Regions from separate parts of the Homo sapiens genome. Here region 1 is linked to region 2. The links come from fine-mapping of genetic effects on plasma protein levels. A gene starts in region 2. The other region holds a variant in brackets. All regions are shown on one strand. Distances are between the middles of the regions. Region 1 holds the start of DDC-AS1 (DDC antisense RNA 1). Region 2 holds the start of DDC (dopa decarboxylase).

The links. A credible set is the group of variants that fine-mapping cannot tell apart. PIP is the posterior inclusion probability: the model's chance that the variant is causal. Protein levels are from antibody-based Olink assays in UK Biobank. Linkage for the fine-mapping came from a reference panel and not from the study's own genotypes, which makes the PIPs less certain.
Region 1: its variant is the best candidate, but not a certain one, in a credible set for the plasma level of the DDC protein (UK Biobank, PIP 0.69).

Annotation. Positions count from the first base shown.
Region 1 is chr7:50,529,503-50,532,381 of GRCh38, forward strand. The region is part of intron 4 of DDC (dopa decarboxylase); the gene reads right to left. DDC-AS1 (DDC antisense RNA 1) reads left to right here and starts at 2,257. Exons shown (of 5, transcript NR_033845.1): 1 at 2,257-2,380. RefSeq lists enhancers at 1,160-1,329, 1,178-1,347, 1,707-2,879. The variant AG/A (reference allele first, on the strand shown) is at 1,167.
Region 2 is chr7:50,564,368-50,567,239 of GRCh38, forward strand. It overlaps DDC (dopa decarboxylase), which reads right to left and starts at 1,038. Exons shown (of 15, transcript NM_001082971.2): 1 at 918-1,038.

The DNA.
Region 1 (2,879 bases), 35 kb before region 2:
TGACACCTGAGACCACCACTTCAGCTGTTGGTATGAGTTTGCCATTGGTGGGTCTATTTTGTGTAACAGCAGCAGCTAACATTTCTGACCACTTCCCTGCGCCAGGTATTGTGAGAGCTTCTCCTCATGGACTGCCCCCAGCCTGGCCTAGGACGACTGCTCCTGTCTCTATCAGAGGAGAACGGCCCAGGGCACCAGCATGCAAGCCTGACTCTGCGTTCATATTCACTCGGACAGAGCGATTTGCATTTGTTTATAAAATAGGGGTGCATTTTCCTTGAGACTAAGAGATGCCTTAAAGGGTTTCTTTTGATTCCTAATGACACGGGCTGAATTGTGTCCCCAAAAATTCATGTGTTGAAGCCCTAACCCCCAGGACCTCAGATGTGACCATATTTGGAGATAGGCTTTTTAGAGAGGTAATTAAAAGAAAATGGGGTCACATGGCTGGGCTCTAATCCAATCTGACATGTTTCTGATAATATGAAATTTGCCTATAATCCCAGCACTTTGGGAGGCAGAGGAGGGTCGATCACTTGAGCCCCGGAGTTCGAGACCAGCCTGGGCAACATACCGAAACCCTGTATCTATAAAAATACAAAAATTAGCCAGGCATGGTGGCGTGCCTGGTAGTCCCAGCTACTCGAGAGGCTGAGGTGGGAGGATGACTTGAGCCTGGGAGGCGGAGGTTGCAGTGAGCCGCAATTACAACACTGCACTCCAGCCTGGGCGACAGAGTGAGACCCAGTCTCAAAAAAATAAATAAATAAAAAGAAGGGGAAATGTGGCCCCCAGACATGTGGGTGCACAGAGGGAAGACCATGTGAGGACACAGGGAGAAGGTGGCCATCTGCAAGCCCAGGAGAGAGGCCCCAGGAGAACCAACCCTGTGGACACTTTGATTTTGGACTTGCAGCCTTCGGGACTGTGAGAAAAGAAATTCTTCTTCGATCCACCCAGTCAGTGGTATTTTGTTAGGGAACCCCTGGCAAACTAATGGATTCAGGGCCTGCTATGTTATCCCATTTAAGTTGTAAAAATAATCCCATTTTTGTGTTTTATCATCTTCAGGTGGGGAAACAGATGTGCAGAGAGGTTCACTAACTTGCCCCAAATCAGCAGCTAGGTAGGGCACGGTTAGGAGTGAGCCCACGCCTGCGCTTTTT[AG/A]GGTGCCATGGGCCTAGAAAGGTAGGGGCAGCGAGCACCTTCCCTCTTAAGTAAGTCGTAGAAGAAACCCATCTACCGACCAGTATGAAAGGACATTAGAAAGGGCAAATAAAAGAAGGTAGGTTCTTGTTGACTCTGAAAAAGTTTATAACATGATAGGTTTTTACAGAGAAATATATAATAAAATAATTAAGTAGAAATGCTAACCTCTCTTCTTAACATTTGATGCTCTCTTCATTGACCCTGATTTCTCATTTTGACTTTGCCTTGACACTACTTTTACTTATTCTTTTGAGCCAACCCACATCCTTTGGTGGGACAGTAATATTGAAAGATAAATACATTTATTCATGTTTCTGTAGCACTAATGGATGGGTTCAAATATACAGATATATGCGTCTCTTAATTCAGCATCTAAAATGGGTACTTTATTTCCTTCAGGCTATATTTTCATGAGCAATGATTTTAGACATTGTTTTAGGCCAGGTTTACAAACCTTGGCCAGAGGAGAGAGAAGGGGAGAAACCAATTTTGGCTGGCAAAGCTAAATCAGCCATCCCAGGAAACCCAGGCTCCCTGAGAGCAGGCATTGTACCTTACTTACACTTCTCCTATGTACCCCATCATTCCTGTCCCTGATTTCCTCCTGTCCCCCTATCTGCCCCCACACACATTTTGTTTGTCATGTCCCACCCATTCTCATTGGAAATGTAACATGAAAAGCCTGGTGGAAGGCACAATTCCCTGTTCTGATGCTTGACAAGCAGGCGTGACTGCAGCTTCCCCGGCTAAATTCTACCCTCTGCTTGAAGCGTTGGAACGCAGGTGTTCATTCTCTGAACATTCTAATGAAATGAGTCACCATGAATCACCTGAATCACCATGACAACTCATTATGGCTTTTCTCTGGGGGGGGATGGGGGAGCTTAGTTCATGTCCTAAGAGAAAATTCACCTTCTTAAGTCAACAAAATGATGTTTTAAAAGCCTGAAGGAGCAAATCGTCAGTAGCACATCTAGAACCACACCACCCCGATGCCACCAGGGTGGCCTGGTGGCCTCAAGCATGATGTCAGGTGGAGCTCTCTGCACTTTGCTGGCAGCAGATCTTCGCGGAGAGAAGCACGGGGAGGGTGACATGTGGTACAGAGCAGGAACGATGGCTCTGTGCGATAGCAGCAGACAAAGGTTGCCATGGCAAGCCTGCTCAGGAGGTAGGAGGGGATGCTGGTAAGGTCTGACGCTTCTGGCTGCTGATGCCGTGAGCAGAAATGTCCTTTCATCTTCAGTTTTTTTCGAAGCAAAAAATTGTCTTTTCTTCCACAAGAACTTTAAAACCCAATTAAGAGACCATTTTCCCAGACCACATTTGTCCAGCCTCACAACAACAGTTTGCCATTTGACTCAGACACGCATCACTGCGCTGACGCCCACAGCTGTGATTACAGCTCTGAGGGGATCAATAATGCAGGCTGGCTCACAGGCTGTCACCAGGCTCCTGTGCTCTTTGGGGCCTCACCAATTACAGACAATCAGCCTTGTCTGCTGAGAAGGGTGAGCTTCCGGTGGCAAACACAGATCCCATTTCTTCCTTTCATCCAGAAAAAAACTGAGTGGATTGGGCTCACAGGAAGATTGTGTTAAAGCGGGGGCTGAGAGATGCCAGGAATATTCCTACCCAAATGCTAAAGACTTGTATGGTCTCTCAAAAAT
Region 2 (2,872 bases):
TACATTCACATTTCGTCTCTGCCAGCTGCAAGATCTTATGCCATCCTCCTCCCCTCCTCTGGCTGTTTGCTCACTTGTGAAATGGGGATGTGACTGGAGGTGAAGAAGGCAAACCTTCTAGACAGAGCCCAATGTAAACTGACCACTCAGAAGTAATGGTTTTAACTCACGCATGATGGAGAGCAATGATTTCCATCGATTAAGCTTTGATTCTTATATACTTCCGACAACAGACTTAAAACCAGGAGAACTTCGACTCCTTGAAGTCGATAACCGAACAATTCTCCCAATAGAAATTCCTATCCGCATATGTTTTCAGATGGGAATTGTACTCAGCATGGCAAGTTGGTGGGAAAGATCTTCTAATTCTCCTCAAATCACACTGCATAGGTAGACACCAAATTGACCTCTAAGTAAACTATAACATACACCAAAAGGAGAGAGCCCTGACGGAGCCTCAGATGTTATAAAGGGAAGGGCAGAGTTCACATTTACTAATCACCTCCATAAAATCATGGGATTTAATCCTCACAAGGTAGATACTAAGAAAATCCTCATTTACAGAAGAAACAGAGGCTGGGGGAATAAAATACCCAACACCATCCCTGGTGGTGCATGGAAAAAATAGAATCACATCTGGCCCGCATTTGCTACTGAGCCAGTCATGAAATCATTCCCAGCACCTATCAAACATGTGTCACTGGAGTGACTGTGTGTGCATGGAGAGCCACCAAGTGCACAGCCCCCACTGAACAAAAACCCCTGCCAGCCTGCAGCAGAAGAGAAAGCACCACACAAGCTCCCTCAAGTGAGTTAACCTTTAAGCAAATGTTCAGTAACATGGGGCCAGAGAGTCAAGGTACATGTTGCTGTTTTCCACTACTACAATCTGAGTAGGTATAAAATCAGAGACTTACATGCTGGAAATTCGAATTCCTTACAGGGCTACTCTCCTTGATGGGATTCTCCAACTTTGGGGACTGAAGAGCATGTGGAGAAGCTGCTGAGGCACTCGGCACTGAGACAGTCACTCTTCTTGAAACTCCAAGCCACACGTTTCCCTCTTCTTGCATTTCCAGCCACATGTGCCAGTTAAACATTAATTCCTGATGGTGACAAAGGTCAAGGAAATCTTGAGAAATAGCTCGCCTCTGGGAATCCTGAGAGCACATTCTGAAGAGACTGTTTCATTCCAAATCCTGGAAGCTTGGATCTTTCTTATGTAATTCTACATACATCCCATCTTTTACTAAGCAGCCCTGATTTCAAGTTTGGAGCCCATTAAGTCATCTGATATGTTCCAGCCCTGCACCAGGTGATGCCTGCATTGCACACAGCCTCCTGCCCCTGAAGGCAGCCCCAAAGTAAGCCTGCACTTCCCGGTGCAGCACTCAGCAATATGGGTAAGATTTCCAGGTTCAGATATCAGCAGAACCCAGGAACTCACCTTCCTTCCCCAAACCCATCAAAATCATAGTTGAGATGCATGAAACAATACTCTGAGTGGAATTTGGACAAATTTATAAAAAAACCCCAAAGTCGATAGAATTTTATGAGAGCACAAAGCAGGGCTGAGAAAGCCACATTGAGAAGTTGAGCAGGCACAGCCTGCAGGGATCTTAGGAGCTGGTCTTTCTGGCAGACCCCCAGCAGCTCCAAGCGTGGGGCTCAGTGGGTGTGAAGAGCAGAGTGAGAGTGAGGCTGGCTGCGGGCAGCTCATTAAAGGACTGGAAACAAGGCAGAGAGGGCTGTCACTAGAGCCATTTGTCACAGGCTAGATGCAGGGAAGAGCTCTCCTTGCTCTATCCTAGGGGACTGGAGCAGGCTGGGGCGGGGCACCTAGGGTTCCTATTGTTAGGACTGGAACTGGAGAGAGAAGCAGAGTGACATTGAGGAGTCTCAAAACCTCCACAGGAGCCATTGGAGGAAAGAGGGAAAAGAGAAAGAATGGCAAGTGAGCCCTCCAATGACGCACACCCAAATGCTCCCGCCTGGGGTCTCACAGGAGCTGAGAACCGAAGAAGTGATTGTCCTTGGTAAGGGGAAGAGTGAGGGAAGGGCTCCAAAGAGGGAACAGCCTCTGCAAAGTTACTGAGGATCAAGCTCGGCATCTCCCAGGCCCTGACAGAAGGCCAACTCCTAAGGACCATTCAAAGTAGGGGAGGGGGAGTCTTGCAAGCCACGTTACGTAATTTGTATCCCCCCAACTGTAATAGAAGGCATTGAAGTGTTTCTAGAAAGCAGTAACCTTAGCTTACTTATGGTTTAAGATCACTCTGGCTCTGGGGTAGAAAATGGATCAGAGGGAGATAAGGGTGAAAGGGTTAGACCCTTTAAGTTGGACCACCAATTCCCACCACATTCCTTGGATTTCTGCACTTTCCTGCAAACCAGGAGTGAATTCAAGTGAATCCATTCTAGGAGATGGGCTGGGGGAGGGAGGGGGGGCTTGAGATGAAGAAGCGTGCTAATATTCCCCATAAGTGCGTGTGTGTGTGTGCATGTTAGGAGGTTGCTGGACAAGGGGAGGAGTCAAGGGGATGGAACGACTACCCAGTGATGAAGCCAGTGGGCAGGGGATGACGGTCATAGACTGAGAGGAAGAAGACTGGGGTGGACCAGTATTGGGTGTGGGGAGGTGAAGGACACCAAGGATTCAGTTTGGGAATTAAATTTCAGATATCCACAAATCGTGTGATTTGAGATGTCCAGTACAGCTCAGAAAAAGAGGCCCAGACAGGAAATAAAGTTATGGGTTGAAAGTGTTTAGATGATATTTGAAGCAATAGGACTGGAAAAAAAACATCCATAGAGAAGAGAGACCTCAGTTTTGAAATCCTCAAAAAAGTGAACTAGTAGTGTCCAACTACTG